Linked DNA regions of Homo sapiens: region 2 is linked to region 1. The links come from fine-mapping of genetic effects on gene expression. Tissue or cell type: whole blood. Region 1 holds a variant in brackets; the other region holds the start of a gene. All regions are shown on one strand. Distances are between the middles of the regions.

Region 1 (8,197 bases):
AATTACGGGTGAGGAGGATGGGCCTTGTATGTGACAGAATGATTTAGTGTTCTGTAGTTCAGTGGAAAGAGTGTAGATGTGTTGAATATTTATGACGTTTTACCTTCTCTCTTTGTTACAGAGGCCTTACAACAAATTAAAACATGTGTGTCAGCTCCCTAATTATCTAGCTAGACTTTTAAAGATTGGCTAGTTAAGGCTGAATTTTATTCAAGCACTACTTCATCTGTCATACTATTTTAAGTACATTAGCCTTGTTAGCCTATTATATGGCCATGATCAGTACTGTTTAAATTGCCAACTTCTACAAGTCCCTTCTGTGTGCTCTGGCTCAATCAATGCATTAGTGGTACTAGCTTAGTTTTGTCACAGTTCTGGGCACATTGGCAGTCCCCGGGTGGGAGGCCTGGAGCTCCTGAGTAAACATAGTGCATCTGCCTGGAGCTTCAATTTTACTTGAGGATTTGGAAAAATATAAATTAATCGATTTAACCATTTATTTAATGTGCTCCAATTCTTTATTTAATTGGCTGCAAAGCAAACAAAATTATGCATTAGCTATGTTATGACTAAAACCCAAATGTTGTTGAATACTTTCAGTGATAGAATAACAGCGTGTAAACCCAGAAGTATGACTGCTTAGCTGTCAGATTTCCAGCCAGAAACCGGCTGAGAAAAAAATGTGATGACACTCATCCTGAGAAGTGTTGGGACGGAGCCTCACCTGGCTTCTGGGTGAGGCAGTCCAAAGCCTACTCCCATCTCATGTCAAAGTCCCCTGTCATTGCATAGGAACTCCAGGGACTGTTCAAGAAGGAACAGGAAGCCTCCAACCCAAGGGAAGGGGACTCATCCTGTTGTCAGGTGAGATCCTGAGAAGCATGGGTGAGCTCAGCATGGGCGGGGCCATTGAGGAAGTTCCTCTTTCCTCAGCTAAGCCGCACTGGCCAGGAGGTCCCTGAGTCCTGAGAGCATCCTCCCAGAGCTGTCCAGGTTACTCTCCAGACCTGGTCGTGGCACCTCTCAGCTCCTGGTGCCTGAGTCCCTGCCTTTGACTAGGATCACCATTTATCACCCCCCACTGCACCCATTGCCCCTCACCTGCCCAGTGTGGTGACACAGTCTTGCTCAGGTCCAGTCCTAGTCCTGTGAGAGAGTTTCTGCCCTTGACTTTGGTCCACATTTCCAGTTCCTGTCTTTATGTGGTCCACTGCCAGGACTATAGACGAGTTCAACCAATGAACAATATAAAGTTTGATCTTTCTGTGAAAATAAATATGAATGCAAAATTCACATGAATGCTTAAAATATCAGACCTCAAAGATGAGTGCTGTCTATCTGTGGCCCCTTTGAGCAATCCCTGTGCCCCTGGAGGATGCATTCATCCGCTGCTGTTACAGCGCCACCAGCAGTCACTTTTGAGGAGTGCAGCTCCAAGGGATGACGGTATAAGGGGAAGAATTCAGCCAAAGTGAGATGTCCTCCAGCAAAATCAGAGACAGTGCCCTTCAGAGGGCTCGTGTCCTGCTGGAATTGGGAAATTCCATAAGGCTGCAGATATTCAGCCTCCTAACTGAACTCTATGCAATGCCTTTATCCCCTCCTCCCGATCTGTGCAAAATATCAAAGGAATAAAACCTGTTTTCTTTCTTAGTGGTTGCACCAATTTTGTGCAGTCTGGTTCTTTTCTGTTTTTCTGTAAAATTGTTTTCAGAAGTACTTAAAGTTGTTGTGGTGAAAGTTAACTTTATGATGCTTGTTTTTCGTTTCAAAAACAATAAAGGCAGCTTTGGCTCATGCTGAGAACCTGAGCCAAGATAGCAGGAGATAGGATTCCAGGGCCCTTTCAGCTTCCTTGTGATGACTTGTAAAACAGCACACACAGCCTTGGCTCTATCCTCTTCCCACCCCGCACCCCCTTTCTTAGAAACATGAGGAGCCCAGGCAGTCATGAGAAACCTTTCTGAGCATGAGAGTCTCACTGAACTGAAGGGTCAGAGGATGACTAGGCCCCCCCTTGTCCTGGACAAACGGCTGCTGTCCCAGTGTTTTCCTCCTTGCTCCTAGGATGGGGGCTTTCAGGATACGTTTTGGGTGGGAAGAGATGCACCAGAAGGCATCCCTAATTTGAGGTGGGGCTGTGATAGTCTTTGCTTTAGCCAGGCCAGTTCCAGACCTGATGCAATTAATCCTGCATTAAGGTCGAAGCTGCTGACCCCTCTCAGAGGGCCCCTCAAGTTCTACCTCTTCAAAATATAAATATCAGTCCCAGAGCCTGATCTTTGGCTCATATTTCCTAGAGAAAAATACTTGAAAAATTTGCAGGCATGTACTTCTGTGCTCATTTCAATTCTGAAGGTGAATTGGCATGGTGTTGGTTAAGGAGGACCCTGTCGTTGATTAGAATGGTCACCTTAAGTAAGGACTTGTTCCTAGTGCCTGGCTCTGTGACAAGCATCCCCAGCCTGCCAGTGACACAGCATTTGTGTATCCCTTTTTGTCCTAAACCAGAGCTCATTCTTGTACCATATGTATAAAGACTGATACTTTGCAGATGGAAATTCCTCCCTGAGACAGAGACAGATCATCTGCCCCCCTCCCATATGGCTTAGGAAGGGCAAAGAAAGAGCCAGAGGAAGCAAGCTTAGAAAGTGAGAGCAAGGGAATCGGGAGAGAACAATTCAAAGACAGAACTGGGAAGCAGGTTTTAGAAATAGGAGGTTGTTGTCAGAGACCCAAGGGAGACATATGAGGGAGCTTCCTGGGTGTTGATGTGGCCTGAATCTTTACACTGGGCCTGGTGTCTGGGAGAAAGAGCCGTCCGTGCCTTCAGGGATGAGAGGCTGAAGGAAAAGCCTGGCTGCCTGCTGTGCGGATGCAGTGAAGATGTGGGGTAGGGTGGGGGCTAGAGAGAGAAAGCAAACTGGGATTAAGGAGAACATTCAGCAAGCCAGGCAATGCTGGGCTCTGCAAAGATCTGGGACCATCTCTGTATTTGGTGTCTGAATGTTCTCACAGTTTAATAAGGCAGTTCTTCCACCTGGATTGGAATAGGGTAAGTGCACACCCTTTCCTTCTTCCCTGCCATCCCCAAGGAGATGCCACAAGGATACCCCACTTTGGGACATAAATTCTAACATACTTGATTTTTTAAAGATCAGTGTCATCACCCAAAAGTTATGCTTGCTGTGTTCATGGTCTGCATTTATGCTCTCTGAATTTGCCTTGTCAAAGCCCGGCTTTTCTCCAGAATCCCACTATGGCAGGAGATCAAGGGAGGGCCTCATGCTCTCCAGCAAATGATAAAATTCCACAGCGAAGCTTTCCCAGCATCATCCAGAAAGAACCCAGAATTAGCTGGGTTCTGACAACCATAGCACATGTCCCCA[C/T]ACAGGCTGTGCACCTTGACTGAGCAACACCCCTGTCCTCGGCCAGCAGAAGACTCGCTTGGCCTGGTGTGGGCAGAAAACATGCCCCAGGCTTTTCTCTTGGCACAGCTTGCTTGGAGCCCTCTCTGCTCCCCCAGAGCCACAGCCCTGCCCCTCGCCCCAGTGATGGTGCTGTGGTTTGCTTATTTTGACATATTCGTTCCTAACACGCTGAAGATGAAAGGCAGGAAATGTGCAGTTCCAGTTCCCATAGCAGCAGTGGTTGGACCACGTTGCGTCACATTTACAGAAGGGTCATGGGATCCTGAAGGCAAACACAGCATAGGCTGACCTCAGGCCCAGGGGCTGGCCTGGCACAGCACATGCTGGGCGCTGCCCGCCCCTAGATGGAATCCCTCCTCACCACGGACTGACCACAGCCTGGCTCACTCCCACCACTGTCTGTGACTGAAGCCACCTCCTCACAAGGTCACTCCTCTTGGGGCTCCCCACTGTCCCAGAGAGAGCCCACTTCCTCCCAGACCACTCCCAGTCCTGGCAGTGTGACTGCTGCTGAGTGACGAATATGGAACTCTCCCTGCCTTTCCAGTTCTCTTCGAGCAGGAAGTGCCTCCAGATCTTTGGGGCAGAGATTGGAAACCCCCAGTATTCTAAAAAAGTGGCAGAACTTGACCCATCAAGACCCAAAGGGAAAAAAAAGCCAAGGCCTTGCTGTTTTCCCTCAGTGACCATCGGCCCTTCCTGCAGTCCCCAGCCAGCTAGATGATTCTTCTCTAAAACACGCCATCTTTCCCATAAGATATAACTAAGCATCACTTCCACCCACACTCAGGATGTTAAGACATTTGAAGAATAATTTGTTCTAGACCCGAAAAAAACCTTGCAGGAAGAATTCCACTTCCCTTCCTCCAGGTGTGTGCCATGTGGCTTGGTTATGGGGGCAGTGGGGGCTGTAACTGGCTTCGTATGTGGCCATTTCCTGCCTTTGGTGCAGTTAAACCAAGCCCTGGGTCATTAGGCTGCAGGAATACCATTTGTGCATTTCATTTCCTTGGGGATGATTTTTTAAAGTGGCTCTAATGCACCTGATCACACTCAGATGTGTTCCCAGGGAAGTAGGCGATTTGAGAGTGCAGTAAAGCCAGCTCGCATGTGCCCAGATCCAGCTCAGTTTCCTGTTCAACAGAAGCCACTAAAGACAGGTACTCAGGGTTGATAATGTCCTTTTGTGCCTTTGTCTGGGGCAGCTCATTAAGGTAGAGACACCTCAGCGCTGACAGGACAACCCCTTCCTGTGTGTTCCAGGGAAACCTAATTGACTACAAAACCTTTTTTTTTTTTTTTGATGTTACCACTGCCAGATACAAATCCAATTAGCAGCAGAGTTAACTCAGATGAATCCTGGAAACACGGAAATACCACATTCTACAGCTAATCAGACCCGTGGAATGATGACACATCTGGATGTCATCAGGAAGGTGGGATTCTGAGGACAATAGGAGACTGGATGCTCTCAGAGCCCACATGTTCCACTGATTTCAGAGCCCCCTTCTGTGGGTGAATTACAAGGACTTCGAGGATTAACAGTCGGAGGCCAGCTTCTGTCTGCTCAAGGCCTCTGGGTCTAGGAACATCATCGCTTTATTCTGAGGCCAAGAGATATTCAAAAGAAGTCACTAAGGTCTTATTTCCAGTAGAGCCCCTTGGTCCCTCCACAAATCCCTCCCTACAAATCTGGATGGATTTAAGAAACCCTTTGTTTCTTGTTATGTGACCCTTCTCCCAGAGACTTGGGAATCCTGTATTCTGACTCTCCTGAGAGTAGAAGCAAACTAGTAATTTCAAGGCACAGAGGGATGCTCTGGCCCTCCCTGACCTCCCTTTAAATAATTAATGTTGCCAGGCAGGTGCTAAAAGACTAGGCAGAGAGAAAAATGCCAATGCAAAAGGGCAAGTGCAAAAGGAAATACCTGCCTGGCCTTTGAGTGATCATGATGGTGACTATTCACCATTGCAATGTGGATTGTAATGTTGGAAGACACTCCAGGCTCTGGGAACCTTGCTTTTAGTAATAAAAGCCCCATTTAGAAGTAACCAGGTAGCTAGAACAGCAGGGCTAGAATCAAACCGATCAGAAGCCACGCAGGAGGCTTGTGTGGGGGCTTCTCAGGACATCAAGTTTCATCCTGATTGGTGGCCTTGTTGTTTCAGAAGTCCTCACTTGCCCACAGAACAGGTTTCTCCTCAACCTACTCGCCTGATTGGTGGGAAAACCCCCACTGGTAGAAGTGGCGGCTGTCAGGGTAGGAGGGCAGAGGCTGGTGCAAGATTTGGAGGCTTTTATCCTTCTTATGTGATGTGTGATATGCTTGGTTCATCTAAGTGTAGTGGGTCTACTCTGGCCTCAGACAGGCGGAAAGCATATGGAGATAAGCAGGGTGGAAGTCTCTGGAATCAAAGCCCAGGGGTCTGGGAAATCAGCTGGAGCTCTCAGATGTAAGCAGCAGAAACGAACAAGGGCTGTTTTCAGCAGGCAGTATCCATCACAATTACCTTAGGTATTTACTTTACCCTTCTACAAGCCTCAGAATATTTCAAGGCCCCCTTTACTATCTCTGGTGGATTCAATGGCTCAGCATTCTTCATAGCCACAGGCTTTCATGGACTTCATGTTATTATTGGATCAACGTTTCTCACTATCTGCCTTTTCAGTGGAAAAGGAGTGTATTGAATGGCTATGGGGTGGCTCAGAGTCAGCGAGGGCTGCAGCGTGAGCTTGGAAAACAGCAGGAGGGCTCTGGCGCAGCCAGGCTCATGGGCAGAACCACACCAGAAGCCTAGGGCCGGGAGGGCTCTGGGACGCCTGCTGTGGGTTCCTGGACATCACAGTCCCCTATGGGTACCGCTGGTGCTGGGCCTGGCCACCGTAGGGGAACAGCTACCTCCAAGGCCACTGAGGACACAGGGTTCCACCCCCTGCAGCCCCCTGCCATGGTGGTCCCTCGTTGTTCCTGCCACTCTCAGCTCTGGCATCTCACTTAAGTCTGTGTGTCTCTAATTGGCCCAGCTCAACCATGTGCCTGTGCCCCACGGCAAGGTGTAAATATCCACGATGCCTGAATTCCGATGCAGAGCCCACACTCTCCAGGAGGAAAGCTACTGATTGCTCTCTTTATCACCAGCGGACTACAATGAAGACTAAACGAGACAACAGCCTGGCCCTCATGAGGCTGTCCTTTCCTGCCCCTACCGCCCAGCTCCTTTGGTCCAAGCACCAAATTCCGCTTGGTGGATATCCAGGCCCTTCACTTCACTTCTCTTTCTTCCTCAGGCTGTTGTTCCTTCTGTATCTCTCCTTAGGGCCTCCATAGGGAGGGAAGGGGGCATGAGGTAAAGTCCTGTGCCATTGCTCTCCAGTTTACAGCGAGGCAGGTGCAGCTAGTGGCCAACTGATGGCCACAGCAAGGGTGTTAACTGGTTAGAAAATGCCAAGCACCTGCCTCGGAGCTCAGTCCCCACCTGTGAAATAAAGCTGCAGCCAGGGTCTGGGGCTCACACGGAGGAGGAGGGTCTCCAGCAAGGAGGTCACCCTTCAGATGCAGGACAGAGCAGCAGAAGCCAGGCGGAGTTCCACCCTAAGCAAGGTAGGAAGAAAACGGAGTGGGCTGCAGAGCACTGGGAGTTTTTTGAAAAATTATAACAAGACTTCTTTGTTTATCTTCTCCCTGGCTTCCGCAGCCGGTCTGAGTCGGGATAAATTCAGCACAGGAGGAAAATGCAGCATTTCCTCCCCCTCTCCTCCCATTTTAGGTGAGAGGAGGAGGTGGCATGGGGGATAGAGAAAGATCTGGCAAGCTCGCCAGCTGGCACTGCGGCTGGGCTGAACACAGCGAGCTTGCTCTGCGCCCCCACAGAGCGGGGCCCAGAGCAGAAATGCGGAGGTATCCTCTCTCTTTGCTCCCCTTCCACCATCTCCTTAGAAGTCAGGTTGGTCTCAGGCATAGAGGGGGTAGGTAGCCCCTTGCTCAGTATGATCCAAGCGTCCACACACCTGCAGGCCCCTGCAGAGCCCCAACAATCAGGCTCATGGCACGCAGCTTCTGGGGGGAGCCATGTTTTTAAGAGTACACCGTTGCTTTCAGAAAGACCCATTTAAAATGCAAACCGGTAGCTTGGGAACAGCAATATATGACAAGCTCAATCCCCTCACGGAGTTGACCATCATATTACTAAGGGATGGCTCACGCGACAGTTCTAAGGATGGGAGCTGGAGATATTTTGATGCAAGTGAGGACATGCAGTGGTGGGTGCCCTGGGTGTAGGGATCACATGAGGGGCTTGGATAAGAAGGGGCACCAGGAAGATTAGTAGGAATAAGGAATGAGGTTGGAGACAGGGATTGTGAGCACGAGGCCTCTTCACCCCCTTAGGCTTACACTTACAGAGCCTCGCCTCTCCCTAGCATAGGGAAGAAGTTGGAAAGCTTTGGATACTGCTGTCCAAAACCCAAAGACCTTTCACAAGAGCCTGGGTCTGGACAACATGTCTGGTCTCCTCCCGATCCCTGTGTTGATGGCGGAGAAGGTGGTGTGATGACAGAGGCCAATGCATTCTGTAGGGGAGAAGGGACTCCCCTAGGAGCTGGATCTAGGGACAGACTTAAGCAGCATTTTATTTTTTGTATCAATTTCATGCATGGTTTGTTTGTTTTAAAATCTGGTTCAAGGCATTGTAGCTATGAAGACTCAGTTATTACTGAGCCTACACTGGGTGGGAGGATGGGGAGGCCTGCGGGGCTGCTGTTGCCC
Region 2 (8,197 bases), 230 kb after region 1:
TTATAGCAAAATCATAAGCATTATTAGAAGTGATCTATGGTAGTAAGATGGTGACTAAATGGTAACAAGAATAAGGGGCAAGGAGGGTGAGCAGCAACGCCAGAGGTGACTCTACCCAGATAGAGGACCATTATTCAAGGTTCAGCCAGCCCAGCCGACGGTAACTGAGTTCCCAATCGCATCAGTTGGTCTGGGCTATAAACCACAGCCCCATTAAGCTATAAATGACAGAGATTCCTGCCAAGGCAAGAGCTGGCAGAATGCTTATTCACCCAGCTCTGCCAACTAAGGCTCTATTGGTGTGGCCAATCAGGACATTTTGTCAGGTACACCAGCCACAAATTCCCATATTCAAGGATCTGAGACTTTCCTTTTATCCCAGTAATTACTAGAAAACATGTGCTCTCTACTAAGGAAGTTCTCACAAAGCCTATACGGAATTAGTTAATAGTTAAGTGCCACTCACTATACGGAATTAGGTAATTAGTGAATTAGGTGCATTCGCTATAGTTCTAGAAAAGACTCTGAAGTGCCACTAGAGGACCATGTCTCTTGTACGCTGTGACAGATGTTTGCTGAAAAAATGAGCAAGGTGAGCGAGCAGAGTCTGTAATACATTTGGATAATTTTTGAAATTGGGGGATTTAAAAACTATATCGAAGCTGATAATGAGATGTGAGTTCATTTGAAAGGAGAAGAAAAACGGGTGCAAATTCTTAAGCTTTCAAAAATGCACATTTTCAATTCCCAAATGAGACTGTAAAATCTTTCAAGATTGGGGTCTGGTTCTTCTATCCCAAAATAAAACTAATATGCATTAAAAATATGTTAAGCAGCAAAGGTGATTAACAGTGAGGATGAGAGATAAAACAGTCTTAACTATTCAGCTTAATTTAACAAGTATTCGAGTTCCTATAATATACTTAACAGGTGAAAAAAATTAAATGTATGCAAATACAAAATCAGGTAATGTTAGAGGCTCCACTTTTTAAAACTAAGTCACCAACTCCCTATAAAAAGAACATTTCTTAAATTTATAAAAAGCCTGAATGGAAAGAAAATGTAAAACACAAAGCAAATAACTAGTCTAGACTCTACTGCTGGACTGCACTAACTAATCAACCAAGATACAAAAGATAGGGCCCTGGCAGTCGTTACTCTGGGGAGCCTCAGGTATAAACTCTGCTGAGCTCTGACAAATCCTGTTGATCTGGTTAGGTCCCTGCCTCTAACTCTTTTCACTACCATCTCACAGAACTTTATTGCTCCATTGCTCTTCTGTTCTAAGTTGGTCATTAAGAGTAAATATGAAGGGACATGAGGCACTTCTGACTAAGACCAACTAGTTAAAGGTAGTAAAATCTAAAATAAAATCCATTTCTTCTAACCCTTAGGTACATCTCTCAACATACACAAAAAGCTATTTTGTATTGGGCGAGTTTGACCCAATCTCCTAGCATTTATCTTGAATACAACAGTTCTCAAACTTGAGTGAGCATAAGAATCACAAAGGGAGTCACTTTAAAATCCCCTTCCCCCATGTCTTTGGGCAAAAGAATCTACATTTTTAATAGACATCCCAGATGACTGATGAGTGGTGTACAACCACTTTTAAAAACAGCTGCTGCTCTATCACTACTTAACAAATAGCCTCTGCACTCAAGAGTGCTTTGTTTTATAACACAGAAACGTTCACACTGTAACAAACTGGATTTTGGGAAGTGAATTCTATTTTCCCATAAGTAGACTTTAAAATTTTAAAGATACATTATTCATTTTGAAGGCTGGGAGTGATTTCTTATACTTTCTTCTATAGGCCACATTCCATGCTTTTCCCTTCCTCATCTTCACCACAGTGGTTAAAGATTTAGAATTTAGAAATCCTTTTAAAAGAGCATTTTTCACCCCAATTTATCTTTTTTATTCGTCAGGAATGCGAGTATTTGAAAAGTTGACTTGTAAACCTTACTTCTGAAACCACACCTTGAAAATGCCAAATATCTCTTTAGGAAAGAAAATGTTTGTACCAAAAAGGTCCACATTTAAGGAAAATGCTGCTATTAAATAATGCTTAGATACAAGGTACTGAGAAACAGCGAGAATTTTATTATTTTTCAGAAAAAGAAGACACTTTTTTAAAGTACCTATGGAGGATCATCACCAAGTAAGAAATGGCACTTCTAGTAATGCACTTGGGCACAGTAAACACAGTCCCAGACTGAAGCCTGGTGAAGTGAATTCTAGGCTCAGTTTTGCCACAAAAGAGCCATGTGACTTTGGGAAACAACCTCTCTGGGTCTAAGTTTAATTTATAAAATAAGATAGTTAAATAAAAGTAACACTTTGATTCTAGCAGCTTAATTCACTGGGAAGTATTTACCTCAAAAAGCATTTGAGGTATGTAACACCTCTAACGTGTTTGATCAAATGACATAATTAAAACTGAACTGGAAACTTGATATTGTGAATAACTTACTTAGGCTGTTCTCGTAGCTATCAATTACATATCATTGTACTTTGCTTCTTCAAAAAAGCTGAATACTTTGAACGTCTAATGTTCACATATTGAGTTTTCTTAAAGTCAGGTACGTATGTACCATAGTCGTTTTGTAAAAGGAAAGAATGTATCTTTTCAGTCCTTTTTCCCAACCCATTGTCATTGCAGACTGAGAAAAAAACAGCTTGAAGTCTTAACCACCAAAAGCAACAGTGCTGCAGTAATTACACCACAAAAATAACATTTCATTCTTAATGAATACTCAGTCTCCTGAGATTACAGTTATCTTCTGGTAACCAACTTTATTCTGTCTGCTCTCATTCGTTAGTGCAAACATTTTCAATTTTAACCCATATTCAGTTCACAAATCATACTTATTTCCAACGGAATATACTGAGTCCAAAAAAAAAATTCCCCAATAGTCCAACAGGAAGCAACACATGCATTTGGCAATTCCAAGGAGGCTGGGGACTCACAGATACCTCGTTCAAAATAAATAAACTTTCCAAGGATTTATTTACCGACGGGAAAGGCAGGTTTGAAAACAACCAGTTAACTTCACTCCCAAGTTGGCATCTTAGAGAATCTTTGTGCGTTTGCAAAACACCCAGGACCTCTGAGCCTCCCAGCCGAGAATTGGCCAGGGGAGCACACGCCCATCGGCCCTGCCGGGAGAGGAAACAATGGGAGAGGCGCGAGGGAGCAAGCCGGCGCCCCGGGCGCCCCAACTCTGCGGCCCCGGCCCGCCCCGACCCCACGCGCCGCGCCCCCTCCCCGGGCGCCCAGGCCCCCCAGGCCCCCGCCCCCGAGCCCCGGGACGCGGCCCACCTGCGGCGGCGCGGGGAGACGGCTGCACTTACCAAACAGGGTCAGGGCCATTGTAAAGGCGCTCGCCGCCGCCCGCGAGTCCAGGCGCTCCTCCCAGGCGGGCTAGGGATCACCTCATCAGCCCGCCGCACCCACACCTCGGAGAGAGTGGGGTGCCCGATGGGGCGTGCTGGGGGCGCCGGCGCCCGGGGAGGCTGCAGGCCGGGACGCGGGGGACCGCTGCAAGAAAAAGTTATTCACGCGTTATTGTCGGGCGCACCGGGCCCAGGGAGCCCCGCTAGCTCTCCGCGAGCCGGCACTTGTCGCTGCCATCAGGCGCGGAGCGTGCGCGCGGGAGGAGGTACCTGCGAGGCAGGAGGCTTGGCCGCGGCGCAGTGGCTGGCGGAGAGGCGGCGCCGCACTGGCGGCGGCGGCGGCGGCGACGGGGAGAGCAGCAGCAGCCTCGCACAGCCCCCGGCGGGGCGCGCTCACTCCGCATCCCGCGGCCTCGCAGACGCCATCTTGCGATAGCGTCTCCCACGAGCTCGGCCGCGCCGCTGCCTCCCGCCTCTCCCTCGGGCTTCCCGGTCGAGTGCGTTCCCATGGCAACGGGCGCGCGCGGGGGTAAGAGGGTGCGCCCTCATTCCCGCGGCTGCGAGGAGCCACCAGCGCCCCCCTGGAGGCGGCCGCCCGGAGCGGGATGGAGCGGGGCCGGTGTGCGTTTTAGCTGAAAGCCCAGGTTTTTTCTTGAATGGAATTTGAGGAGGCGCAGAGAGGAGAAAAACGCTGTTACTCGAAAGAGGAAGAGTCACAGGAGGATGCTGAGTGAACGCAGCGCCCAGGCAGGGTCATCTGGGGACCTGGTGCGTGTGAGAACATATTTCTTCTCCTGGCGCCCTCCAGGCTCACTGTGGCTGGAGCCGGTGACCTGAAGCTGCAGGGCTCTGGTAGGAACAGAGGCACTGAAAGCTGCATTCCTCTCCGTTTGGACTTAGGAGCTGCTAGTAGTTCTGATGAAATTGACACACATTAGGAAAAGGAGTCGCTTAAAAAGCATCTGAGATTACCTAAGATAATTTGTTAAAAGACCAATGCTTACACCTGATTTTCTTCCCTTTACATTATACCTCTTTGATATTGTCTCAAGGAAAAAAAAATCAGCATGTGTCACTGACTGGCACTTATTTGCCACAAAAGATTGTTCCCCTGAGCTTCTTGTATTTATCTGATAATCACTGGCAACGTCCTCCTTTCTGTGATGTTGTCTCCTCACCTCTGTCTCTGCCATGAGGAGCCATACAACGCCTTGAGATTGTCAGCCAAAAGATGTTCTTGAAAAGCTGGGTTATATGTTTTTCGTCGTTGTCGTTTAATGTATTCAAAAAGTCATTCTTCTCTAGTTGCTATATGTGTTCCCTGTTTAAGAAATTCCTTCTTTTTTCTTGTTTCTCTGCTTAGGGATTTGATACTATTTTGGTATCTGATCATGTAGATCTTCTCTTTGGTTCTCCTTTCTTTCTACAGGCGTCTTTCCTCTTAGTTCCTCAGGTTCCCTAGTGTCTTCTCTCCCATTTTCAAATAATTCTTTAAGAATATTATAGAAATATCTTGTATTTAATGTATCTTAGAGATCGAATCCTGATAAAGTGGGAGATTACTACAGTACTTCCAATGGAACCACAGTTAATTCACCATCATTATTTCAAAGCAGACTTAAGCATCAGAAGAAAAGCAGGTTGGAAGGAGGAGCCAAGCCTTTTGTTTCAAGTCAGTTAACTCAGGAAGAAAGAAATATTAAAATGATTCAACATGAATGGGCAAGTGTTTAAGATGCTATATGTTTGGAATTTTGTGATGTAAAATGGCTCTCTTTAGCCACTAATCAAAATACATCTTTAAAATCCCCAGAATTTAAAATCTTTCATGAAAATGGACTCTTGATTTTGAACAACCTTTCTGCTCATAAAAAATTACAAACACACAGCTCATGAAAATAAATGAGAAACTCAAGAAAGCTTTGTGGGATAGATTTTATAACCATATAAAGATTGCTGCTAATCTGCTCTGCAGCCAAATAAATCAGAAACCGAAGACTCCATTTACTGTTTCAACTAGTGGTCTTCAACATTTTTGGACCAAATTTCCTTTTGAGGCTCTAATGAAAATACTGTCCCTCCTCTTAGAAAAGTGCTTGCATACATACACACATTCACCGGAAATTTTTCACATAATTTCAAGGGGATTATGGGCTATTCAGGGACCTTAGGTGAGCCCCTGGAAGTGTTTTTTGTAATCTCAGAAAGTTTTTGCCTTTATAATTTAAAGGAAAATATTTTCCTTCAGAATAGAACCATTGAATTTTGAATAGGAAAAGACCAAAACTCCCATGATTTATAGGTAAAAAAATTGAGTTCCCCGTAAAAAGATTTTCCCAAATGTGTTCACCTATTTAGTAGCAGAACCAATGGGAAAATCTTAGATTTCTGGTGTTCTCACCGACCACCTTCCCTACCCACATCCCGCATCAATTTAGAGGTTGCATGGTTTGAATTTCAAAAGAAAAATCTGTTTAGTATTAGAAGCAAAATAACGAGAGTATTTTGTCCTTAGCCATTCTGCATAGAGTTTGGGAAGTTGCATTTTGTCTCAAAGAGTTTTTATTAACATGCCCTTCTACTCAGAACTATGTGTCCCATCATGCTAAAAGAGAAACAATGCCTTTCTCTCCTCTTTGTTAAGCTCTGTTAGAGCATCAAGGTTTTGGTGCTGCAGCTCAGCTTGCTAGTAGCTCTCTCCATCCCTTGAGGGGTTGTCCTGGGAGTGAGACAGAGAGAAAGGAGCTGCCCTGCACTCAGATTTACCCTCCCATCATACAGCCGGCCTTTGGTTACTAGACCAGCTTTCCACTCACTAGTTTGGCCAAATACAACTGAATCCTAGTGAAATACCCTGCTTAAACTCAAGTGAAGATCCTTTTCCTCTCCCCTTTCTACTCGCACACCCACGTACACACACACACACACAGCTGTTTTTAAGGTACAATTTGGAACAAAACAGTGTGAATGTTGCTATGTTTCCCTTTAAAGCATCCTGCTTTCCACGAGCCATTCCTTTCAACTGACTTCCAAATGGTTTGATGCTCTAACAAAATGCTCTCTATACTTGATCAAAGTGCCTGTCTTGGAAATAGTATTGGCTTTTAAAATAGCGTATTTTTTTCAATGAGCTATTCCTATTCTATTGCATGTGCTTCTTTTCTCACTTAGCTGAAAATAAAGCCACAGCCTTTCAGCTACAGAGTCAATGCAAGGAAGGGCGTTAACTGCTTGGAGGTGATTATTACGGGTGGTGACTTAGATTGTTTATAAAAGAAGGGCAAAGAATGAATTGACTTCTCAAAATATTTATGTTTTCATTCAATGATTTCATTTTGTGCTTAACATGCAAGTGCTTAGAAGAGCCAGATTTGTTTATTCGTTACTAACTAGCTGTCAGATTTTTAGACAAATGTTTTACTGTTTCTAGTTCTTATCTTCCTCCTTTGTAAAATGAAAGGATGGTACTAAGGTATCTCTAATGTCCCTTTTAGGTTTATCTGTCATTGTGTGATATTTTAAAATCTTTAAATTAACTGGTTTATGGATAAAACAGAGGACATTTTTATTTGAATCTTCAATATATTTAAAGTGCTGTTATATCTAAAGTTCATAAATACCTAATGTAATAAAGAAGTCATATTTTGTCAAACCAGTGGTACTGCTATTTCTTCTGCAATGTGTTGTACTAATAATGTTATATTAATCATGTAGAAAGCAACCTTTTTCTGGTTTAACAGGATTAAAATTAAAAGTGTGCACTGAACAACCCATTTCAAATTTACTAAAACAATTTCTCATTTTTATTTAAGTTTTGTTGACTAAACAGAACCTAGACAACCCTTTAAAATGGTTTTCCTACATTTTAAACTAATGACTTATCACAAGTGTTTTGAATTTCTTTTTGTTACCCATTTAGCTTCATTCCCATTGGTAAACATTGATTTGTTCCTCAGTTTTCAATGAAGCAGAAATTAATGAGGCGGTTTCTGCCTCACAATAACAAGTTAAAATTATAGTACTTTGTCATGTCAACACAGCTTTAAACACTAGGAATACCAGTGCTATTAGCACAGTTCCCAAAATAGTGCAGAAGTTTGCTAGTGAAGAGAAAAATGTTACACAGTATACTTCTGCTAAAGTTAAAATTAAGAAAGTTAAAATTATTTAAATATTCACAATATGTGACATTCTCTCTATCCCATATTTATGTTACTAGTTACAGTGTTTGTTTCCACTGTGTGAATTTGTTTAAAGTGGATTTGTTTTTGTTTTGAGACAGGGTCTCACTCTGTCACCCAGGCTGGAATGCAGTGGCACAATCTCAGCTCCCTGCAGCCTTGAGTTCGTGGGCTCTAGCAATCCTCCTACCCCAGCCTCTGGAGTAGCTGGAACCACAGGTGCATGCCACCACACTCGGCTAATTTTTGTATTTTTAGTAGAGACAGGGTTTGCCATGTTGCCCAGGCTGGTCTGGAACTCCTGAGCTCAAGCAATCCACTCCTCTCAGCCTCCCCAAAGTGCTGTGATTGCAGGCATGAGCCACTGTATCCAGCTATTTGGTCTGTTTGGTTTTTTGTTTTTTTTTTTTTAGACGGAGTTTCACTGTGTCACCCAGGCTGGAGTGCAGTAATCTCAGAGCTGACTGCAATCTCTGCCTCCCAGGTTCAAGTGATTCTCCTGCCTCAGCCTCCTGAGTAGCTGGGATTACAGGCATGAGCCACCACACCTGGTTAACTTTTTGTATTTTTTAGTAGAAATTGGTTTCACCATGTTGACCAGGCTGGTCTTGAACTCC

What was found. PIP is the estimated chance that this variant, and not a neighbour inherited with it, causes the effect.
Region 2: CHN1 starts here. The variant in region 1 is fine-mapped to the expression of CHN1 in whole blood (TOPMed, PIP above 0.99).

The regions. Positions count from the first base shown.
Region 1 is chr2:174,775,004-174,783,200 of GRCh38, forward strand. No RefSeq gene overlaps it. Among named protein-coding and RNA genes, the nearest start is that of CHRNA1, 15 kb to the left of the region's middle. RefSeq lists an enhancer at 7,044-7,651. The variant C/T (reference allele first, on the strand shown) is at 3,390.
Region 2 is chr2:175,001,537-175,009,733 of GRCh38, forward strand. CHN1 (chimerin 1) reads right to left here and starts at 3,845. Exons shown (of 13, transcript NM_001822.7): 1 at 3,358-3,845. The coding sequence starts at 3,376. RefSeq lists an enhancer at 3,015-3,561 and a silencer at 3,546-3,605.